Linked DNA regions of Homo sapiens. The protein of the gene in region 2 purifies or fractionates together with the protein of the main gene of each other region. This does not show direct contact. Each region holds a gene or a part of one and is shown on either strand. Other genes may lie near its edges. The genes, in order: PAWR, TXNL1, CSE1L, PGM1, USP16, FLNB and DEK.

Region 1 (2,793 bases), on a different chromosome or scaffold from region 2:
AGTAAATTTTTCCAAGGTCACATAATCTTACATGAAATGGAACCTTTCATCTTAGACTTCATCAAACTCAATTTTTTCCCTTCTAGATTCACTTTGTGTTTATGCATGCATGCACGCGTGCACACAATTCTATCAGCAGCTGTAAACTACCCACATATTTTCTTAATCTCATTTTTTCAGTTTTTCTTCATCTTTAAAAGAGGTTACATTTCATTCCTGGTCAACTCTTAAAAAGAATTATGTAATGTTGGGCCTTCATATTAAAGAGAGAGACTGGTTATAAGATCCTTTACAGTCCATTCATTTTATTCTGATGTCTAACCAGATAGACACTAGCAAGCAAAACTTCCCTCTTAATCCTGGACCAAATGCATAATTTTACTGTCACTTTCAAAAATCTGTTATGACTGAATCAAAATCCTTTTAAAGAAAGGAAAAAGCTCCTTTTGTGTCAAATAGTTGAACAACATGAAAACAGTATGAGCCGGTTAAAGATAGATTGAATTTTTACTTTACACATATGAAAAACAGTAAGTTTTGACTGCTGTGTATGTTATTCATGTTAATATGTGCTCAGTTATTCACTATTGTTAATCCACATATAATCAGTTGCTATCCCTGGTTAGACACACTATGGAACTTGAAATGCACAATATTTACATTGTTAGAGGCTTCTATCCAAATATCTGCATTCCTTTAAAATGTGAACTATTTGCTGTGATTAACCAAAGGTAGATTATGTCATCAGTGGACATTTTAGCTTTATGGAAACAAATTATTAAGAAATGAATAGAAAGGTGTCTTTTTCTTTGTGTAGTGCAAAAGCCTAAAGCTATCAGTCAAAGGCCTAAGAAATCCACATTTGAAAAACGTAAATCATGATTGGTAAGAATACATTCATCTGATAGTATTGAGAAAAGTTGAAAAACTGTTAGCCTTCCATAACACATTAAACATTTTATGTATGGATGGCTGAAAGTATTGAGAAAAGCTGAAAAACTGTTAGCCTTCCATAACACATTAAACGTTTTGTGTATGGATGGCTTAGGACAATAAACAACATCATTAAAGTAAAATTATGTCAGTCTGTTCATATTAACTTATTTAAATCAATGAAAATTTTGATGAGATGACTAAATGGATGCTTTGGAAATGCAGGATTATAGGAGGCCTAAAAGTGCATCTTGTTTCTTGTAACCCTTTTAAAACCAATATGCCTGGCTAGGTGCAGTGGCTCATGCCTGTAATACCAACGGGGTAACACAGGGTTATGCCGTCTATACAAAAAAATAAATGAGCTGGGCAAGATGGCATGCACCTGTAGTCCCAGCTGCTTGGTAGGCTGAGGGGGAAGGATTGCTTGAGCCTGGGAGGTCGAGACTGCAGTGAGCCAAGATCACACCACTGCACTCCAGCCTGGGTGACAGAGCAAGACTCTACCTCAAAAATAAAAATAATCAATATAGTTTCAATGAAGCAAAGCATCTCAGGTAACAATTTGAGCATAACTTTAACCATAACTTATGATAGCATAATAACATTCATTAGTAATTCAGTAGCCGTATGTGCCAGGCTGTGTTAGGTGCTTTATATATTGTTTAATTTTTAAAAACTTGTGGAGTGTACAGATTGGTAAGGTGACATTGTATCACAAAGCTAGTCTTTGAGTCCAAAGTTTTGTGGTTTTATGTTATGATATACTTTTATCATGGAATTGTCTTATTAAATGTTTTGCCAGTGGTTCTTAAAGTGTGTTTCTGACACCAGTAGCATTGACTTCACTTAGAAACCTGTTAGAAATACAAATTATTTGGCCCCACCCAACACTTGAGTCACAAACTTTGCAGATGGGGCTCAATCTGTTTTAACAAGCGCTTCATGTAATTTTGATGCAGGCCTAAGTTTTTGAGCCACTGCAGTATGCATTTCTATTTTTAAGCAAAGATCTTGGTCTTTCTTTTTGGACATTGTAGAAATAACATGAACTTGTTTTTTGTTTGTTTTTGTTTTGTTTTGTTTTAAGCTCCTGATCTTTGTTGGTTATGTTGCAAAAGATTGTATCAGGAGAAGCCTCAGCATGGACATTGGCATCCTGACATAACCCCCATTAATTTAGTATTCTTTCTGAAACTCAAATGGATTCTCAAGTCCAAGAGACTATGGAATAAAATCATTGTTTGTCTGTGTTAAGTTTTATCTCTGTTATTGCCTGAAGACTTTTGGTAACAATAATGCGCTTTCATCAAACTTTTAAGACTTGATTGGAAAAAATAAATGTATGTTTCATCAGTTATACAATTTGTTTTGTATGTGTTTTGTATGGGTGGTCCCTGAGGAGCCTGAATCTTCAAAATATACTTTCTGTGAGCTCAGAAAATGAATAGCACTTTTGAGCTAATTGATCAGTGTGGAGAAATCACAGTGTTGCATCCTGATGAGTAAAGATAAAATTGACTCTTTATCGATTCAAGATCATTTTTTATATAAATAAATAAGCTACTCCTGTTTACTTTTTACAAACTTGAGAACAGTTTTAGATTTATAAAGTTATTGTGAAGATAGTACAGAGGGTTCTCATATGCCACCACACCAAGTTTCTCCTACTAACATCATACATTAATACTGTGCATTTATCACAGTTAATCGTCCAATATTTATGCACGATTATTAAAGTCCATACTTGATTCAGATTTCCTAAATTTTCCCCTAATGTCCTTTCTCTTTTCCAGTGTCCAGTCCAGGATACTACATTATATTTAGTACCTGTGTCTCCATAAAATTCTCTTGGCTGTG
Region 2 (3,500 bases):
TTGGATTATATTTATGAATTGCCTGTTCTAGTGGTGGCCCTGCCGCCAACTAGGATGTTTGGTGTTGGGCAGGTCATCTTATGATCTTCACTTCTTACTTACTGGTTAATTATATTAGGTTATGTCTGTTTTAAAGTTTTAGTTTTGTGGGTTCCTTTTTTTTTTTTTTTTTGAGACAGAGTTTCGCTGTTTTTGCCTAGGCTAGAGTTCAATGGCGCAATCTCGTCTCACTGTGACCTCTGCCTCCCAGGTTCAAACGATTCTCCTGCCTCAGCCTCCCAAGTAGCTGAGATTACAGGCATGCGTTACTAGGCCCAGCTAATTTTGTATTTTTAGTAGAGACGGGGGTTTCACCATGTTGGTTAGGCTGGTCTCGAACTCCTGACCTCAGGTGATCCACCAGCCTTGGCCTCCCCACAGTGCTGGGATTACAGGCGTGAGCCACTGCGCCCGGCTGGGTTTATTTCTTTATACATTGTAGAAAGCTAGCGGTTTACTGTATTCTTTTTCTCAAACAGCATAACTCAAAATCCTTCTAACATACACATTTTATATATTGGACTAAGCAGATAAGTTTTCAGTCAGAAGGTTTAGAGTAGAAAAGTAACTTTTTTTTTTTCTTCATTTTAAATGTCTGGACTAGGTGATCTCTTGAACCTTTTGCAGTGAAATAAGAAATCGTAGATTGTGCAAAGGGCAGCTAATCAAGGTGTGTGCAAGAGAAAAAGGTGTAATTCTGAAATTCAAGCATACTGGGTGCATAATATTGTAGAGCTGGGAAAAGTCCTTGGAGAGTCCTTTTATTTTATACAGAGAAATCAGGTGACTTGTTCATGATCTCAGCTAATGGAAATTTGTTTACTCTCAACTGCTCCTGTTAAGGAGACAGACATCTTATGTAAAATGATCAATTGGCTGGGCACAGTGGCTCACACTTGTAATCCCAGTACTTTGGGAGGCTGAGGTGGGAGAATCACTTGAGTCTAGGAGTTTGAGACCAGCCTGGGCAACATAGGCAGACCTCGTGTCTTCAAAACATCAAAAATTGGCAGGGTATGGTGGCACGTGCCTGTAGTCTCAGCTGCTTGGGAGGCTGAGGTGGAAGGATCACTTGAGCCTGAGGGAATGAGGCTGCAGTGAGCCATGATTATGCCACTGCACTCAACCTGGGTGACAGAGTGAAACCCTAAAAAAAAAAAGAAAAAAGAAAATGATCGATTTATTTGAATGATTGTTTTGTGAAAGTGTGCTGCTGTATATATTTGTGAGTTTGTATATATTTATGCTTCTCTGCTGATGCATTTTGATTTTTGACCAAAGTTCCAACCTCTGATGGCTAACTGAAATTAAAGAATCTAGATAAAGTTAAATCTTGAAACAGTTTTTTGCACAGTAACCATAATTTTAATAGTCTGTTCAGCTGCAAGATGTGTGTCTGTAACACCAGTTAGCTCGTAAATAATTGATGAATAGAGAGATGTCAATGTGATATGGAAGTTGTATTGGTTCATGTGTGATTATTCCTAGGTAGTGAAAAATAGAAATAAAACCTTCATCTGGAAGCAGAAAGCTCTCAGCCACACAGGCAAATTCCCTCTCTTGTTTATTTTAAGAAAGTTAATGAAGTTAAATAAGAGTGCCTACACCTAGCGTTTGTTCCCCAGAAGGGTTTATTTTCAGTGTTGCATTTTCTCCTGTCCCTTCCTTAATGGCAGCCCCACTGGCTCAGAGCTCCACTTCAGTCTGCTTTGTCACAACACCTGTAAGCATCATTTCCAGTTGATTTTGTTCTTTTCAAATATTCCCCAAGGTCGCTTCCAGCTCTGAGCCACATGCTGGGATGTCCATCTTTTTCCTGAATCCTAGTTACTGTCTTTTTTTTTTTTTTTCTTTTCCAAGTTGGAGTCTTGCTCTGTTGCCCAGGCTGGAGTGCACGATCTTGGTGACCTTGGCTTAACTACAACCTTCCGGGTTCAAGTGATTCTCCTTCCTCAGCCTCCCGAATAGCTGGGACTATAGGCATCCGCTATCACGCCTGGCTAATTTTTGTACTTTTAGTCGAGATGGGGTTTCACCTTGTTGGCCAGGCTGGTCTTGAACTCCCACCCTAAAGTGATCCACCTGCCTTGGCCTCCCAAAGTGCTGAGATTACAGGCATGAGCCATCATCGGGCCCAGTCTGGTTACTATCTTTCTTACTGATCTTGTTACAAAATTGCATGGGTTTCAAGTAGTTTGCCAACAAACTTATTTTTCCCATAAATTCTCTCTTTTTGGTGTGTGTTTTTGCAGGAGGGTGGTTTTCATGAATGGATATATTGTACTATAGAATGGATACCTCTGTAATTTGTGACACCTGTGTAAATGCAGTTAACACTAAATTCTTCTCAACTCATTTAATATTTTAAAATGAAAATACCTATTCATCACAAAAAAGCAAAGGATGCAGAATTATGGATACTAACTGTTCATTGTGCCTGTCTCTGTCTTTTTACCCCCTATGCATTTATATATATACATAGGTTTGAAATGTGATCCTAGAGAACATTTTATAATGAGACTTTCTTCCCCCCTAAACACTGCAAAGTATCAGGCTGGGGTGCAGTGGTGTGATCTTGGCTCACCGCAACCTCCGCTTCCCGGGTGCAAGTGATTCTCCTGCTTCAGCCTTCTGAGTAGCTGGGATTACAGGCATGCGCCACCATGCCTGGCTAATTTTTGTATTTTTAGTAGAGATGGGGTTTCACCATGTTGGCCTGGCTGATCTAGAACTCCTGGACTCAAGTGATCCGCCCATCTTGGCCTCCCAAAGTGCTGGGATTATAGGCGTGAGCCAGCGTGCCTGGCCCCTGTCATAACTTTTTAAACTAGTTTTCCATTAATTGCCATTTAAGTTGTTTTCTAACTTTACTATTACAAACATGTTACATTGAACTTCCTTATACTACATGTTATTGTGAAATAGAGTAAGTGTTGTTAAAATGGAATAGACTTTCAAAAGGGCAATTATTGGGTCTTGGCTTGTGTTCATCTAAAATGAATAGATATGACCCAATCAGTGGCCTTTGAAAAACAGTGTAGTGATATATATTCCCATTTATAAAGTTTAAGACTAATTTTAGTTGACTGTAAATATTATTTTCTTAGATTTTTGGTGTATGGCTTTCAGGATAACACAAGGTGAAATGCTGATTGAAATGTTAAGAATGTGGAGTTGATCACAACTTGAGTTTTAACATTTGTTTTTATTTTGTGCATTAGATTTGCTTTTTCTTGCATTTCTTATTTCTGCAAACTTTTATTGAGACATACATGGCACACAATTAGAAATGTATAGTTCAATTAATTTTCACAAACTGAACACACCTATTTAATCAGCTTCCAGACAAACAAAACATTGCTAGCCTCCAGAAGTCTTATTCTATCAGTAACTCACTAAGGTAACCATTGTCTTGATTTCTGATACCATTGATTGGTTTTGTCTGTATTTGAACTGTATGT
Region 3 (3,500 bases), on a different chromosome or scaffold from region 2:
TGTTGCCTGAGTGGTCTTTTTCTTTCATTAAGAGTTATTTGGCTACAGTCTGGAAACCTATTTACTCTTGCATTGTTAAAAGATAAAATTTCAATACTGTAATAATATTTGATTCTATTTGATGTTACATGTTTGGTGTGTGTAGTATACAGAATTACTCTTATCATGGGCTTGGCTTAAGCCATAGTGTACATATAAGGCTGTTTCATTACATTATTGAAAGTAGGTCTTTAAAGTAGTGACATTATGGATATTTCATGAAATAAAATTATTTTTCATTGAAGATACTAAGAAAACTTAAAACTCTATAATGGTAGCCCCTTTTTAAAAATCATCTGGCTAGGCATGGTGGTTCACACCTGTAATCCCAGCACTTTGGGCGGCCAAGGTGGGGAGGATCCCTTGAGCCCAGGAGTTCAAGACCAGCCTTGGCAATGTAAGGAGACCCCCATCACTACAAAAAATAAAAATAAAATTAGCCAGATGTGTTGGCTCATGCTAATGGTCACAGCTACTCAGAAGGCTTAGTTGTGAGGATCCCTTGACCTTGAGCCCAGGAGGGCAAGGCTGCAATGAGCTGTGACCATGCCACTGCACTCCAGCCTGGGAGACAGAGGGAGACCTCGTCTCAGAAAAAGAAAAAATTATCCACAGCTCGAGAAAGAGAGAAAATGGTAAAAGATTGTAATTTGTAAATATTTCTGATATGGGTTTTATATTGTGTACTTTTAAACATATAACACTTATTCTGTGCTACTCATTTGTTAATATATTTATGACCTTCTTTCCGAAGAGACAAAAGACAAAATATTAAAAATATTTCAATACCAAATAAACTAAAAATTAGAATTGGTGATTCAAATCAGGTTTTAAGAGTGGGGTACAGAAAGAAATTGTTACTATCGTTGTACAACAGATTTTGTCTCAGAGTTTGACTATATTAATAGGAACTTTAAAAGATGTAGCTCTCATAAAATAATTATTTCAGTCCAATGGGAGGGAAAAACACTCCTTCAGAAAACAAAACTTTTCTTCACACAAAAGTCACAAGGAAATTTTTTGGATAGAATTCTTACAAGGACCTTTTTGCCCAGTTAACCATGTGCTACCTTGTGCTACTATTTATGCCTTAAGTAATCAGTGTGAGGGAGTTTTGGTTTTGGCTTTGGTTTTTGTTCTTACTCTGATGTCTTCCCTTGTCTCACTCTGTCACCAAGGCTGGAGTGCAGTGGCATGATCATGACTTACTGCAGCTTCGACCTCCCTGGGCTCAAGTGATCCTCCCACCTCAGCCTCCCAAGTAGCAGGGACTATGGGTATGCACCACCATGCCCAGCTGATTTTTTTTATTTTGGGGGCTTGCTGTGTTGCCCAGGCTAGACTCAAAACTCCTGGGCTTGGCCCGTCGCAGTGGCCCACGCCTATAATCCCAGCACTTTGGGAGGCCGAGGCCATCCTGGCTAACACGGTGAAACCCCGTCTCTACTAAAAAAAAAAAATACAAAAATTAGCCGGGCGTGATGGCGGGTGCCTGTAGTCCCAGCTACTTGGGAGGCTGAGGCAGGAGAATGACGTGAACCCAGGAGGCGGAGCTTGCAGTGAGCTGAGATCGCGCCACTGCACTCCAGCCTGGGCAACAGAGGGAGACTGCGTCTCAAAAAAAAAAAAAAAAAACCACTCCTGGCCTCAGGCCATCCTCCAGCCTCAGCCTCCCAGAGGGTTGGGATTACCGGCGTGAGCCACTACACTCAGCCAGAATATACTGTTTGAATCTAATACGGAAATATTTTGTAATTCAGCAACTTATTTGAAAGACTTGGTGAAAAGATTGGTGGTGGCATAGCTGTAGTTTACAATAACTGATTTGATTTGGATTTAATTGATAAAGAGTCTAGTTCAGGAATTTCAGTTACTCCTCTTACTTATGTTAGCATTAGAGTTGTATGTTGGAGTTTTTGTTTTCTTTTATGTGAGGATGAAGAGGAAGCCGGCTTATTGGAGCTCTTAAAATCCCAGATTTGTGATAATGCCGCACTCTATGCACAAAAGTACGATGAAGAATTCCAGCGATACCTGCCTCGTTTTGTTACAGCCATCTGGAATTTACTAGTTACAACGGGTCAAGAGGTTAAATATGATTTGGTAAGATGATGGTGGAGACAAATAATTAAAAGACATTCTCTCCCTATCTCCTCCAAGAAATAAGCTGTTGAGTTTTGCTTTTAAAAATATTCTTGTTTTTGTGTTTTGTTCCAGTTGGTAAGTAATGCAATTCAATTTCTGGCTTCAGTTTGTGAGAGACCTCATTATAAGAATCTATTTGAGGACCAGAACACGCTGACAAGTATCTGTGAAAAGGTTATTGTGCCTAACATGGAATTTAGAGGTAATTATGGCAAAAGTATATTAGTATAAATCTACTAAGTCTGTGTTTGTTTTTTGTAACATATTCAGTCTAATTCATTTATTACTGGATAAAACTTGTATGTCATTTATTTCTTATTTTCTAAACCAAGACAGAAAATGTAGTATCTGTAATGAGTTTTGTTGTGCCCTGTGAGGGTTTTCTCATGGAAATATTAAATAAGACTTCAAAAATTCCTTTACACTAAGAAGATAAACTATCTGGAATTTCTATTTAGAGAAAGAATTTGATTTTGTTTCATTTATTATTTCAATGAATTTTTAGCTGGCTTTATTTATTTATATATTTATTTGAGACAGGGGTCTCGCTCTGTCACCCAGGCTGGAGTGCAGTGATGCAATCTTGGCTCACTGCAACCTTAGCCTCCCAGGCTCAAGTGATCCTCCTACCTCAGTCTTCTGAGTAGCTGGGACCACAGGCACACATCACCATGCCTGGCTAATTTCTTGTATTTTTGGTAGAGACAGGGTTTCACCATGTTGTTCAGGGTAGTCTCAAACTCTTGAGCTCAAGCAGTCCACCCGCTTTAGCCTCCCAAAGTGCTGGGATTGCATTTCTGAGCCACCTCGCCCAGAAATAGCTGTTTTTAAACAATCGACTTGAGAATAGAAATGATAACTTTATAAATACAAGGTTGAAGCCCACTTAGTTTGTGCTTAAGGTTAAACTATAGTGCTAAGAGCCTATATTTATAAAATGTATGTCCTTGTTCTAACAGTTGTGAAGAACAAGTAATGAAGGTGGGAGGGATTGTGTTTTTTGTTTTGGGGACAGGGTCTCACTGTGTCACCCAGGCTGGAGTGCAGTAGCACAGTTATGGCTTACTGCAACCTCAACTTCCCAGGCTCAAGTCATTGTCCCACCCTGGCCTCCTGAGTAGCTGGGACTACAGACGTGCACCACCATGCTCAGCTAGTTTTTTATTTTTTATAAAGATGGGGGTCTTCCTATGTTGCACAGGCTGGTCTCAAACTCCTAGCTTCAAACAATCCTTCTGCCTCAGCCTCTCAAAGTGCTGGGATTACAGGCATGAGCCACCATGCCAGGCCAAGATTTTGTTTTATATCAAAATAGT
Region 4 (3,500 bases), on a different chromosome or scaffold from region 2:
CTTTCCATCCAGGAGCATACAATCTTTTGGGGGAGATAAGACAGAAGAAACACATAGACATACAAAGAACAGAATTAGAAAACATGCTGAGCTCAGCGAGAGAGAGAACATTTTGGATTGGGAAAGAAGAGGTGCCTGCACCTAAAACCAATTATGTCTTGAAGAGCGGATAGTGTGCGATAGAAGATGGGGCTACCCTTCAGGAAGGGGACCTGCCGAGAGAAGTGAGAAAGAGAGAATAGGCAGGACTCTTTTTTAGAGCCGGACACTTAGTCACTAAACAATCTTTGTTACATAAAATACTTAAATCAGCTTGCTTGGGACTTTTTCTTTCTTGGCTTCACTAATGCTCTTGGTGAAACATCTTTTTCCTTTTTCTTTTTTAATCAAATCTAATGCTCATGAAATTTTGTAGAAGAAAAAGAAAAACGTTCTCCCTTTCTGAGATAGAGGGTTTGTTTTGTTTTTGTAAACAAGATAACAGGGAAGAGTGCTCTACTGTTTTGGAAAGAGTGACTCATTCAATAAATATTTATTGAGCACCTATTAGGTTCTCGGTACTACGGATACAACAGTGAATTGAACAAAGTTTCTGCTCTACAGAGCTGTGGGGTTCTCGTTGAGCCTGACAGATGATAAACGTGTCAAATGAAGATAAGTTCTCTGAAGAAAAATAAAACCCAGTAAAGGGGACAGCATTAGAGGATGGGCTGCTCTTTTTAGTGCAGCAATTGGGATGTCTGATAAACCTCATGAGAGCAGAGACCTGAATGAAGTGAAGGAGTGAGCCATGCAGATATCCGTGAAAAGACTTCCAGACAGAGGAAGAGTTAGATGGAAAGGATAAACACATATAATCATTTAATGTTATAAAATTATGCCTCAGGTAAATAAATGTAGCATACATTTTATCGTACAAAGGGTCCCAATATACTATGACATTTTGCATATAGATTATAAGTATTATTCTATTATAAATTTATCTTGGGATAATAAGATGTGTAATCAACATTGATCAAATATTTAACAATAATTTTTTTCTCTCTTGGACTCTAGGGTAGGGAAAACTTTTCATCTACCCTCCTAGGTTATATACTGGGGGCTTGCAAATTAAATGTAAAAGACAAATGAGCAACAAAAAGACATTTGTGGGAGTTTACAGAAAAATGTGACAGGAGGCAGTTAGACTTGGGGGCCTATACATCATCTCAGTAGGGGAAGGCGGAAGAGGAGAAGAGCATTTGCTGGAAACCACGACTTTAGGAGAGATAAATCAGCCCTTAAGAGACTAGATAGGAGATGTGGTAGTTTTATGCCAGTGTCTATTTAGTTATGGTAATGAGTCGATCTTCCCTGGTTGTGAAACTCCAGAGTTCCTTTGGGGCACACTGCTTTTAAGACAGATGAAGGAGTTTAGTAAAAAGCCTATTTTTAAATGACTGGCTCAAAATAATTTTTATGTCACAGTGGTGTAGTCTGGACCCCTTTAGACTTTAGAAGAGCTTTCAGCAGATTGATTTGAGTGAGCTACACTTCTAAGAAAGTGAAGCAGGAAAGTTTGAACTGATCCCTTTATTCTCCTCCAAGTTCCCTTGAGGCCCACACAGACATAGCCAGTTATTCTGCTGACTTTGAAGCTGTGCTCACAGTTGGGATCCACCTTTGAAAAATGGCTCCTGAGTGTGTTAAGTAAGTAATGGCTAGCCGAGGGCTTCAGTTGGGAGGACTGCGGAGAAGACTTTTCTCCCCTGGGGTCCTCAAAGGGGAAAGAAATCACAAGGGGGCAGCATAGGGAGTTGTTTGGAAAGGGTGAGAAGGCTGTGCTTAGTGTTGGGATACGCGGATGGATGTAAGCTGGGTTTTGTTTTGTTTAGTTTTTTAAACTTCAGCTGTTGGAAGTCCTCCTTCCCATAGCTTCTCCAAATCACCACTGAGCTGATTCCCCAAGGCATAAAGACAGCCCTGAATTAACACAGTGGGGAATGCTAATTAAGTCATGCCAATAAAGATTTAATCATGAATCAGAAACACTTGGAAAATTATGTTTTCATATTGGAAAGATGTTCTTTTTTTCTCTATGAGTACCCCAAAGTGTTTTTGAAGGATGAAATGCGATAGGTGGTAGGACAGAAATATTTGGTTGACTTGTCCAGTATGCTAATGGTGTTGGAACAGGGACTCCAGTCTTCTGATATTTCATCTGGTTGGTCTTTTCCATAAATAAATATATCCCAGAGCAAGTAGTTCTGGGGATTGTTATAATATGCTGGTTAATAGCATGGAGAAACTGGCTTGGGCAATGTTAAGTAGGAGTTTCAGAGCTTTTAATATATGAGTACTGAGAGTTTGTAAAAGGACCCCAAACAGAAGAATTTTGGGAAATACCAATCTATACCATGCTGGGTTGATAGGACCATCTATATTATACAAGAATCTTCTCAGATTTAAGTTTCTTCTTTTTAAACTGCCATTAAGGGCATGCAGGGAAGGTGAAATTTTGTTTTAATATCCATGTATACCATATGGCTTATTTTGGCAACTAATATATGAATTTGTTCTTGGCTGCTTTGAGTGTGATTGATTCAGCCCAATAAGTATTTTCTAACCAGGTCACCACATGTAGAGTTATGAGGTAAGTGACAAAAGTCCTTCTGACCAAATATTAGTCCTGTATGTTGTACTCCAATGTGCTCACAAGTGAATTGAAATGTTGCTCAAGAGTGAATTGAAATGGCTACTACATTGTGTGAGTCCGGAGGGCTTAATCTGCATGGTGTCATAGCCATTTGGGGGCTAAACCGACAAGTGTGAGGATTGTAAACTGGCAGGGAGCTCAAAATGAGCTGATTGGTGAAACTTCATGGTGATCTCGTAGGTTGCAGCAGAGAACAATACAGGCCCAGTCCTCACATGCTTGGGACTTAAGGTGAAGGTTTGTGTTGGAGGCTAGGTGGGTTACGGACAAGCAGAGAACTGCCACAAGGTGCTGTCAGCACTGGGATGGAGGTGAGCAAAGGAGGCTAGGAAAGCATAAAGGAGGCGTGCCTGGTTCCAGCAGAGGGAGTAGGGAAGTGACAACTAAAACCAGACCTGAAGGTGAAGAGCAGAGAGGAATGTTCCAGGCAGAACCATAGGTGAGAGAATTTGGCATGTTTAAGAGAAAGCTCCCCTCACTGCCCCCCAACTCCGTATTTTTGTTTCATACTCTGCAAGGAGCAACTGCACTAAAAATGTACCTCATGTTTTCTATTTTACAAGTTACTGCCACATGCATGGCCTTATTTCCTGTCTACAACAAACCTTTCAGGTGTCCCAGGTCACAAAGTCAGGAAAAGAGCCTGGGAACTGCCCCCACTCTTCCTAGAATGTAAGGGGTGTTGGGCCATGTTCCAAATACCAGGTTCCCACTGAGAGTGGCTGAGGATAATGCTAATCTGGGCAGTTTTAAGCAGGAAATGAGTATGTGGAGTAGGGAAGTGCGGAGATCTTGCTATGTAAGT
Region 5 (3,161 bases), on a different chromosome or scaffold from region 2:
TCAAAAAAAAAAAAAAGTCTGGGCCAGTTGCTGTGATGGGCATAATGGAAGAGGCCGCTAAGGACAATTTATAAGATTATGGTCACATTGAGGACTATGACAAGGTACATGATCATTTATTATACTTTTGTTTCTTGGCAGTAGTGGCCATCTGGGTTTGGGGCATGGCAGGTACATTATAGGATTCAGGGTGAGGTTTTGTGATGAATTGGATATGGAGGAGATTATTTGTAAGTGATACATGTGATTGAAGTTCCCAAACTTTAATGTGTATGTGGGAATCAGACCTACAAATTTTGATTCTGTAGGTCTAGTATGGGATCAAAAATTCTGCATGTTTAATGTAAACTCTCAGGTGATGCTGATGCTGGCTGTTCATGGACCACATTTTGAATAGCAATGGTCTAGACTGCATATGGGAATTATATTATGTCAGTTTCCATGCTGCTGATAAAGATATACTGGACAAGATATACTGGGCAAGACTGGGCAATTTACAAAAGAAAGAGGTTTACAGTTCCACATGGCTGGGGAGGCCTCACAGTCATGGCGGAAGGCAAGGAGGAGCACGTCACATCTTACATGGATGGCAGCGGGCAAAGCAAGAGCTTGTGGAGGGAAACTCCCCCTTAAGAAACCATCAGCTCTCATGAGGCTTATTCACTATCAAGAATAAGGATGGGAAAGACCTGCTCCCATGATTCAGTTGCGTCCCAACGGGTACCCTCCCATGACATGTGGGAATTGTGGGAGCTACAACTCAAGATGAGATTTGGGTAGGGACACAGCCAAACCATATCAGGAATGAAGCCAAAAGTCTTCATAGGTGAGGAGAATATGAGCATTGGAGATCCTGTTAGGTTAAAGAGTACAGAATAGGTGAGATGAGAGTTGAATAAATAGAAGACTTGTGGACTAAGACTAAAAATAAGATTTATGTCCCTTCAGCTCAGGAGTTTGAGACCAGCCCAGGCAACATGCTGAAACCCCATCTCTACAAAAAATTAATTTAGCAGGTCATGGTGGTGTGCACCTGTAGTCCCAGCTATTCCAGAGGCTGAGGCGGGAGGATCACTTGAGCCCAGGAGGCAGAGGTTGCATTGAGCTGAGATCATGCCACTGCACTCCAGCCTGGGTGACGGAGTGAGACCCTGTCTCAAAAAAAATTTTATGAAGTTGAACAATTCTGAGTGATGACAAGCCCAGACTCTAGTCCTGGGTGTGGTTGACTAAAATGGAATGGCATTTAAAGTCCTGTGAGAATCATAGATGGACGGAGAAGTACTAAGTTCTTCAGTGAATATGGAGGCACAGATTGGGAAGCTGAGTATAGGAGACAGTACTACTGAAGGGCCGTGATGCCTGTTACGGACTTTTACATGAGAACATAAATAGTTGTCTGAAAAGTGGCTCCTGGCCCAGAGAATGCCTGTTCCTGTTGCCAGCCCTATGGCATATAGAGTCCTGAAAGAATAAGCAGCGTGCACTCTCTCGTGGGGAAAGTGAACACTTGAGAGGTTGAATGTGCTTCTCACCAACTCCCTTGGGGACATTTAAAGATGTAAGGGGTAATTTTTGGCACAACCTAAAATACTGTTCTCTTCCTGTTCAGGGCTTACCTTTTTTTAAACAGGGTATTCAGAGTTGTTAATAGCTAGGGTTGTTAAGAATTATCCTCAGGCTCCTAAAGAAACTGGCAAGTTGAATTCAGTTATTTGGTATCTGAGCCAGGTAACTGCATCAAGTGGCCTGTGGCTTACAGCTTTTCTACCAGGGGAACAATGGTGAATTTATAATAAAAACAGAAGTGTCTCAGGCTGAGAAGAGGTATGGAGAAAAGAGTAGACTCATGAATGATTTCTGCACTCTCAAAGTAATGGTTAAAGACCCTTTGCATAGTGTAAACTTGTCTTGCCCATGACATCTGTGTAAATGGAACTAGAACTAACTTTTGGATTCTACTCATTTTTAAAGAATGTTGCAGAAGAAAATACAAGGGTACTCTATTCCTTATATGGAGTTGTTGAACACAGTGGTACTATGAGGTCGGGGCATTACACTGCCTATGCCAAGGCAAGAACCGCAAATAGTCATCTCTCTAATCTTGTTCTTCACGGTGATATTCCACAAGGTAAGATGTCTTGGAAAATTCAGGCACTCAGCAGATTACGGCAAAACCAAAAAGTAATCAACTTGAATCTTTCCATTTATGTTTGATTTTTCATTTTCTCATGACAGATTTTGAAATGGAATCAAAAGGGCAGTGGTTTCACATCAGCGACACACATGTGCAAGCTGTGCCTACAACTAAAGTACTAAACTCACAAGCGTACCTCCTATTTTATGAGAGAATACTGTAATAATATCAAAAGCACTTTTTCTGGAAACACATTTATGGCTTTTATAATGGCTGAAATAACGATAAAAAAAGACTAATTAAAATCATGTTCACTTAACATTAAATACATGCCAGAAGAAATCATGTTTATTTAAATATTGAAGGGAAAAATACCTAAAAATGTACAAAGGTTTTATATTGTCATAGTGGTTTTTATTCCTGCTTTGTTTCTGGAAAGGAAATCCTGAATTACTTAAGTACTTTGTGTTTAATATATCTGGGTGATGGATCACAACACATCAATAAACTGACTTACCCTAAAATCTTGTTTTATTACTGGGAAGATTTTAACTTCTATTGACTTATCCTACTAGGTAACACTTTAAAAAATATTTCATCAGACTGGCTAATGAAGCTTCATTACAAGTGTGTTAATTTTTTTTTTTTTTTTTTTTTTTTTTTTTTGAGACGGAGTCTTGCTCTGTCGCCCAGGCTGGAGTGCAGTGGTGCGATCTCAGCTTACTGCAAGCTCTGCCTCCTAGGTTCACGCCATTCTCCTGTCTCAGCCTCCCGAGCAGCTGGGACTACAGGCGCCCGCCACCACGCCCAGCTAATTATTTGTATTTTTAGTAGAGACAGGGTTTCACCGTGTTAGCCAGGATGGTCTCGATCTCCTGACCTCGTGATCCACCTGCCTTGGCCTCCCAAAGTGCTGGGATTACAGGCTTGAGCCACCGCGCTGGGCCATACAAGTGTGTTAATTTTATAAGCATCTATATTGACAGCAGAATATAAATGGGAGCAATGTTTCTTTATAAGCCTT
Region 6 (3,500 bases), on a different chromosome or scaffold from region 2:
CAAACGGAAATACAGATATATAAGAGAGTGTCTTCCCAGCCTTCCCTCATGTGGACGAACCATTACATATTTGACCATTTCCCTATTGGAGGGCATTTTGGTTCTTCCTGCCCTCGCTGTCCCCAGTGTTGCTGCGCAAATCGACTTTTCCCCTAGTCACCTCACACTCACAAAGATGTATCTGTGAGATTTAGTTACCAGAGGAGGCAATGCTAGGGCCCCAGTGCAGGCATCTATGATTTTGACAGATCTTGCCAAATTGCCCTTCAGAGGGGCTGTTGCAGTTCACACGCCCTCTGGCCATGGAGAAGAGCACCTTCTTTTCCACAAAATTTGCCAGTAGAATATGGTATCAAATTTTTGGAGCTTTGCCAGTCTGATGGTTGGAAAGAAACAGAATCTCAGCGTTGCTTTATTTGTATTTCTCTTGTGAATGAGACCACACAACTTTCCCTATGTCTATTTGTATTTCTTTTTCTGTGAACTGAACATTTGGATCCACGGCCTGTTTTTCTATTTGGTTATTGGCCTTTGTCATATAGTTTCTAAGAGCAATGTAAACATTGGAGAGATTAGCCCTTTGTGGTAGGAGTTGCAAATGTTTCTCTGAGATTGGCATTTACTTTAGTTGTCTGTATGTAATATTGGTTTAAAGCAAAAATGTATTATCTGCTTCTATTTAAATATTCTAAAGCGGCAGATGGAGAGAGAGGAAAAAATGTCTTTCTCACATCTGCCATCCACTTCCACTGCTGGTGTGAGTTGTGTATCTTTTCAGATGTTTCTCTCTGTATCTACAAACATACATATAATTTTATTCTATTTTGTTTTTAAAGGAATAGCATAATGGTATTCATAGTTTATAGCAACTTGCTTTTTTTCTTTTTAATGCATCATATTATGGATAATTTCTCAAGTCAGTAAACATGGGTCTTCCTCACTCTTTTTAATGGCCCATGAGTAGATCAGCATTTATTTAACCGGTCCCCTGTTGTGAACACTTAGGTCTTTTCCTGATGTGCACCCGAACACTGCAGAAATGAAAGTGCTTACATAGGGCTAGGAGTCGGGGTGGGCAGAGAAGACCACTGTGGGGTTGATTCCTTACAGGTTGAATGGCATGGGCAAATGGCCTTCCAAAAGCCCTTTCCACTTACCTTCCCTCTGGCCATGGGTCCTTTCACCACCCAGTGCAAAAGTTTCTTCCTTATTTGTCAGGTTGGGCTGGTACCTTACCTTAGCCCCCTTCCTCATCTGGAGCAGCTTCCAGGATTGTTTTTCTTATGTTGTGATTGAAGGAATAATACTGCGTAGACCCTCTCTGATGTCCTAGGATGGCGGGGGATGGGAGGTGCATGTGCATCTCCTTCTGTCTCTTCATGCCTCTGCTTAGGAGGCGCCAGACCTGTAGAGAGGTGGACGTCAAGATGCCAGTTGTCCAGGGTCTTCGTTCACCCCTTAATGAGCACCAATTTTGTTTGTGTCCTTCGTAAACCCAGAGAGCCCACTCCAGTTCTACGTGAACTACCCCAACAGTGGAAGTGTTTCTGCATACGGTCCAGGCCTCGTGTATGGAGTGGCCAACAAAACTGCCACCTTCACCATCGTCACAGAGGATGCAGGAGAAGGTACTGTGTGGTTTACGTGTTTATACGCCTCCAGCTGTCCATTTGGAGGGTGAAGTGGACACGGTTCCAGGGTGGCTTTTAAAAGTGAGACAATCGAATGGTAGTATTTGTCTTGTCTTTTCTCTCGTGTAAATCTGTTTCTTCTTTAGAGCCGCTTCGTCTTCTACCCAGACAGACATTTTTGAAGTCCTTTGTGTTCTAACTGAAATCAGATTCATGCTATGAAATACTTTATGTGACTTGTCTGGAATTTAAGTGTGTTTTGGTTGGTGATGTTTTTGTTCTTGTTGCACATGTATCCACAAGACCACATGACTTACTGAGTGGCTCTTTTTGATAAAGCTGTGTGCCCATTCCCGTGGTATTCATGGATAATCCCAAATCTGTGGTTCTAATGGGATTTCCGTGATGGCAGCCAGTGCCTGATGGGCAGGGACAATCCACCTCTGCCCTCCACCACCCACCGTCTCCTATGTGTAATTGATGTACACGGCTCCTTCCTTTTCTCATCCCATGCATCCTGAGAGTAGAGAGAGCTCCAGGGTTACTTGCAGTGAAGAACTCAGATGTTTGGGGTTTCTTCTCAGTGGGTGTTTTTACTGCGTGGACTGCTTCATTCTGACAGATGTCCCTTTGCCCACAGCTCACGTGGAGTGCGTCAATCCATTGTCCCCAGCATCAGGGCTGCCCTGGATGAGTTGTTAAAAGGAAACTCTTAAAACAAGGCAACTCTCTCCCTAACACCCCTGCATCCCTGTTCCCACTTGTAGGTGGTCTGGACTTGGCTATTGAGGGCCCCTCAAAAGCAGAAATCAGCTGCATTGACAATAAAGATGGGACATGCACAGTGACCTACCTGCCGACTCTGCCAGGCGACTACAGCATTCTGGTCAAGTACAATGACAAGCACATCCCTGGCAGCCCCTTCACAGCCAAGATCACAGGTAGGGTTGTCTGGCTTCTGGGGTCTTCCTCGTGGGAAGTATGGCTGCCTCTGACTGCCACCCTCCTTATCAGACCCCTGGCAGCAGGCTAGACGTCTCTTTGAGTTTAGGTTTCACAGAGACTTGTTGAGGAGGAGCAGGGGATGGAATGCAATTTTGGATTAGCTAAATCCTTCTCTTGCTGATAATCCAGGAAAATGCGAGAGCTAGTATTTGGAGCACACTTTTATTGTGCCAGTGTGACTCTAGGGTGCAAAGAGAAAGCTCTCAGATGGAGTGTTCGAATCATACTTACTGCAATAGTGCATGAAGTGCATGAGCTTAGACATGCCCTTCAGCGTCACTACTAGGTAAATTTTCTGCTATCCCTTTTACAGATGGGAAAACTGAGGCTTGGCAAGGTAGTGGTGTAGCCAAGTTCACATATAGGTAAACAGATCCAGGTTATCAAATTCCAAAGCCCATGCTCCTCACCTTGCTGTGTTCAGGTTATGCTTTCAGTGGGTTATAAGGAAGATGCACAAGGCAGATCCTGTTTCCCCACCGTATTTAGACCTGTCTGTGAAGCAGCCAGTAGTACTGTGTGGAATGTGGTCATTGTTTACCTAGAAATGCCCACAGCCATGCCAGGCAGGTATGAGGTGCCTTCAACTAACAAAAATTCCTATATTTTATTTTATTTTTGAGACAGAGTCTCACTCTATCACCCAGGCTGGAGTTTTAGTGGCATGATCTCGGCTCACTGTGACCTCTACCTCCTGGGTTCAAGCGATTCTCCTGCCTCAGCCTCCTGAATAGCTGGGATTACAGCACCCACCACCACACCCAGCTTATTTTTGTATTTTTAATAGAGATGAAGTTTCACCATGTTGGACAGGCTGGTCTTGAACTCCTGACCTCAAGTGATTCGTCTGCCTCAGCCTCTCAA
Region 7 (3,500 bases), on a different chromosome or scaffold from region 2:
TTTTCATCTGTTAATGTATCTACTCCCCATAAAACCATAGGAACTATTGTTTCTTTTGTTTTGTAAATGAGACAAGGGCCCAGAGATGTACTGGGGCTGGAATTTGAAACCAGGCAGCTTGCTGCTAGAGCCTGTACTCTTTGAACTATTATGTCGTATATTTTTCTTTAGTGCTTGTGCAGTATATTTGCAGTCTTTTAGAAATTTTAATAGATGACAGGCCTGGTTGTCCGTTTAGAAAAACTGTAGAACATTATCCTTTACAGCAGATATGAAATGTAGAAAGATGTGGTTTTGTTATACAGAAGTAAGATTTTATGGAGATGGCTTGTTATTTATTATTATAAATGTTTATGCTTTGACAAACTGTCACTACTCACAATTTGCAGGTTTTAAAATGATGTCATGTTGTGTATCACATCTAAAATTTTAATGGCAAGCCTTAAAAGGCTTTGGAAGTATTTTAGTTATCTAATTCTGATTTTCTAATTTGAATGGAGATTGAGTAATTATTGATGATATTGTTTCTTTTGCTCAACCTTCAACCCTTTCAGTAATAACTTACTTTCTTGTACCTGCAAGTCCAGATTTTATTACCGTTTAACTAAAAAATGATATATAATCATGATTATTGTATTCTGTGTATTAAGTGTGCTAAAGAACTTAAGAATTTTTAGGATTCCCTTTCAGAGCCTAATATATAGTTCACATGAACTGGGTGGACACTTAATGAACCTTAAAACTTAGTTTAAGTTCGTCATAAAAAAACGACAAATCATTGATACTTGTCCCATAGCCCCACACCATCTAGAACATCTCTTAGGATTAGGAAGTAAGTTAAAATGGCCTGTAAATCGCAAAAGTCCATGGGAAATTCATGTACTTACTTTTAGAAGCATGTCAGCCCCTTGACACCTTAAAAATGTATTTTTTAGTAGCAGTTAAACTACATGCTTCCCAGCCAGTGGTATATTGTTGAGGTAGTGCAGGGTGATGATAGGCTTGTATAAATAGGTACAGTGATGGTATATTAGCAAAAAGAAAGACAAACACTAAAATCCAGCCAGGTGAGGTGGTGTGTGCCTGTAGTCCCAACTACTCAGGAGCCTGAGGTGGGAGGATTGTTTGAGTCTAGCATGGGTAACATAGCGAGACCATCTCTTTTTTTTAAAAAAAAAAAAAAAAAAAAAAAGACACTAAAATCCAATGAATAGCTTGAGGCCACTTTTGGAACAGATTGATGTGTATACTTTAATCTAAAGGATAGGTTCAACACAGTGCTTATGTCTTTAAAAACAGGTTGACTTGGCCGGGCACAGTGGCTCACGGCTGTAATCCCAGCACTTTGAGAGACCAAAGTGAGTGGATCACCTGAGGTCGGGAGTTCCTGACCAGCCTGGCCAACATGGAGAAACCCCGTCTCTACTAAAAATACAAAAGTAGCCGGGTGTGGTGGCGCATGCCTGTAATCCCAGCTACTCAAGAGGCTGAGGCAGGAGAATCACTTGAACCCGGGAGGCAGAGGTTGCGGTGAGCCGAGATCATGCCATTGCACTCCTGCTCCTGCCTGGGCAACAAGAGCGAGACTCCATCTCAAAAAAAAAAACCAGGTTGCTTTAGGATAACTCTCAGGAATCAAGAGTGTTAAACATTTGGAGAAACGTTCTGTCAAGTGATCGCAGTAGTTTTAGTGTGTAAATGGGAGAATTTAAAATATCTTGGAATGTTTAATAGGAAGCTTTTCCTTTGGGAACATTAATTAAACTAAGAATTAATGCTTTCTAATTTCACAGGCTCCACATGAGACAAAGTATGAACTCTGATTTTGTCTTTTTTTTTTTTTTTTTGAGACAGTCTCTCTCCTGGAGTGCAGTGTCATGATCTCCACTCACTGCAACCTCCATCTCCAGGGTTCAAGCAATTCTCTTGCCTCAGCCTCCTGAGTAGCTGAGACTACAGGTGCCCACCACCACACCCAGCTAATTTTTGTATTTTTAGGAGAGACAGTGTTTCACCATGTTGACCAGGATGGTCTCAGTCTCTTGATCTCATGATCCGCCCGCCTTGACCTCCCAAAGTGCTGGAATTACAGGCATGAGCCACCATGCCTGGCCTGTCATTTTAATCTATCCATATTTATGTATTTTGTTTGTGTCTAATCACCTATGGGTTAGTGTTTAAGAACACAAGTTCTGGAGTCACATCTATATTTGAATCTTGCATGTTTATTAATGTGACTGTGGACAAGGTAACCACACTGAGCCTTAGTTTCCTCATATAGTCATAAGTATTTATTGAGCAACTACTGTATACCAGAGACTATTTTAGGAGTTAGGGAAACATCAGTGAACACAAGATTCTAGGCCAGGTGTGGTGGCTCATGCCTGTAATCCCAGCACTTTGGGAGGCCAAGGCAGGCAGATCATCTGAGGTCAGGAGTTCAAGACCAGCCTGGCCAACATGGCAAAACCTCATCTCTACTAAAAATACAAAAATTAGCCGGGTGTGGTGGCGAGCACCTGTAATCCCAGCTACTAGGGAGGCAGAGACAGGAGAATTCGCTTGAACCCGGGAGGGCAGAGGTTGCAGTGAACCAAGATCGGGCCACTGCACTCCAGCCAGGGTGACGCAGCAAGACTCTGTCTCAAAAAAAAAAAAAAAAAAAAAAAAGATTCCAGTTGAAAGAGAGAGAACATAAATAAGAGAAGATAATATTATCTATATTTAGGGGTCCCCCCCAAGATTAAGTAGAGTAATGCATATGTAGTTTATCCATAGTGTTGAATAAATATGGGCAACTCTTGTGTGTGTGTGATTGTGATTTGTCATGCTTAGACTTGTGTTGGGATAAAATTGTTGTATATTAGTCATCTCTCAAAAAGAATTTTTAATTGCTGATACCAAATATATTGGTTTTCTCTAATATTATTAAGGGGCATAGGGGAAGTAGAGGGATGGGATGGGATAGCATTGAATCTCATCAATATGTGTACTTTTACTTTCTTTTGTAACAGCCACCAAAAAAGACAGCCAAAAGAGAAAAACCTAAACAGAAAGCTACTTCTAAAAGTAAAAAATCTGTGAAAAGTGCCAATGTTAAGAAAGCAGATAGCAGCACCACCAAGAAGAATCAAAACAGTTCCAAAAAAGGTATGTTAGAAATAACATTAATCAGCAACTTTAAAGATATAGCATATATTAATATGTTGTACATAGTATTTAAGTGTGTGGGAGAAACAGGTAAACTGCAGAGAACATTGCGGGGAGAAGTAATACAGGTTGAATATCCCTTATCTGAAATGCTTGGGACAGGAAGTGATTCAGATTTTGCAATATATATATATAGAGAGAGAGACAGAGAGAGAGATATCTTGGGGATGGGACCCAGTCTAAACATGAAATTCATTCATGTTTCATATTCATCTTAAATAGCCTGAAGGTAGTTTAATATTTTAACTAAATAAATTATTTATTGCAGTGGTGCCGTTACAGCTCACTGT

Evidence for each region.
Region 1: the proteins of TXNL1 (region 2) and PAWR fractionate together in Homo sapiens (co-fractionation; one large-scale study listed by BioGRID). This does not show direct contact.
Region 3: the proteins of TXNL1 (region 2) and CSE1L fractionate together in Homo sapiens (co-fractionation; one large-scale study listed by BioGRID). This does not show direct contact.
Region 4: the proteins of TXNL1 (region 2) and PGM1 fractionate together in Homo sapiens (co-fractionation; one large-scale study listed by BioGRID). This does not show direct contact.
Region 5: the proteins of TXNL1 (region 2) and USP16 fractionate together in Homo sapiens (co-fractionation; one large-scale study listed by BioGRID). This does not show direct contact.
Region 6: the proteins of TXNL1 (region 2) and FLNB fractionate together in Homo sapiens (co-fractionation; one large-scale study listed by BioGRID). This does not show direct contact.
Region 7: the proteins of TXNL1 (region 2) and DEK fractionate together in Homo sapiens (co-fractionation; one large-scale study listed by BioGRID). This does not show direct contact.

What each region holds. Positions count from the first base shown.
Region 1 is NC_000012.12:79,584,379-79,587,171, reverse strand, and holds the end of PAWR (PRKC apoptosis WT1 regulator protein), read left to right. Parts: 3' UTR 1-2,293; downstream 2,294-2,793. UniProt on the Homo sapiens protein: Pro-apoptotic protein capable of selectively inducing apoptosis in cancer cells, sensitizing the cells to diverse apoptotic stimuli and causing regression of tumors in animal models.
Region 2 is NC_000018.10:56,628,593-56,632,092, reverse strand, and holds part of TXNL1 (thioredoxin-like protein 1), read left to right. Parts: intron 1-3,500. UniProt on the Homo sapiens protein: Active thioredoxin with a redox potential of about -250 mV.
Region 3 is NC_000020.11:49,070,312-49,073,811, forward strand, and holds part of CSE1L (exportin-2), read left to right. Parts: intron 1-1,974; coding exon 1,975-2,142; intron 2,143-2,256; coding exon 2,257-2,386; intron 2,387-3,500. UniProt on the Homo sapiens protein: Export receptor for importin-alpha. Mediates importin-alpha re-export from the nucleus to the cytoplasm after import substrates (cargos) have been released into the nucleoplasm.
Region 4 is NC_000001.11:63,599,911-63,603,410, forward strand, and holds part of PGM1 (phosphoglucomutase-1), read left to right. Parts: intron 1-3,500. UniProt on the Homo sapiens protein: Catalyzes the reversible isomerization of alpha-D-glucose 1-phosphate to alpha-D-glucose 6-phosphate. The mechanism proceeds via the intermediate compound alpha-D-glucose 1,6-bisphosphate.
Region 5 is NC_000021.9:29,051,828-29,054,988, forward strand, and holds the end of USP16 (ubiquitin carboxyl-terminal hydrolase 16), read left to right. Parts: intron 1-1,974; coding exon 1,975-2,131; intron 2,132-2,238; coding exon 2,239-2,360; 3' UTR 2,361-2,661; downstream 2,662-3,161. UniProt on the Homo sapiens protein: Specifically deubiquitinates 'Lys-120' of histone H2A (H2AK119Ub), a specific tag for epigenetic transcriptional repression, thereby acting as a coactivator.
Region 6 is NC_000003.12:58,144,422-58,147,921, forward strand, and holds part of FLNB (filamin-B), read left to right. Parts: intron 1-1,499; coding exon 1,500-1,628; intron 1,629-2,398; coding exon 2,399-2,572; intron 2,573-3,500. UniProt on the Homo sapiens protein: Connects cell membrane constituents to the actin cytoskeleton. May promote orthogonal branching of actin filaments and links actin filaments to membrane glycoproteins. Anchors various transmembrane proteins to the actin cytoskeleton.
Region 7 is NC_000006.12:18,237,031-18,240,530, reverse strand, and holds part of DEK (protein DEK), read left to right. Parts: intron 1-3,014; coding exon 3,015-3,150; intron 3,151-3,500. UniProt on the Homo sapiens protein: Involved in chromatin organization.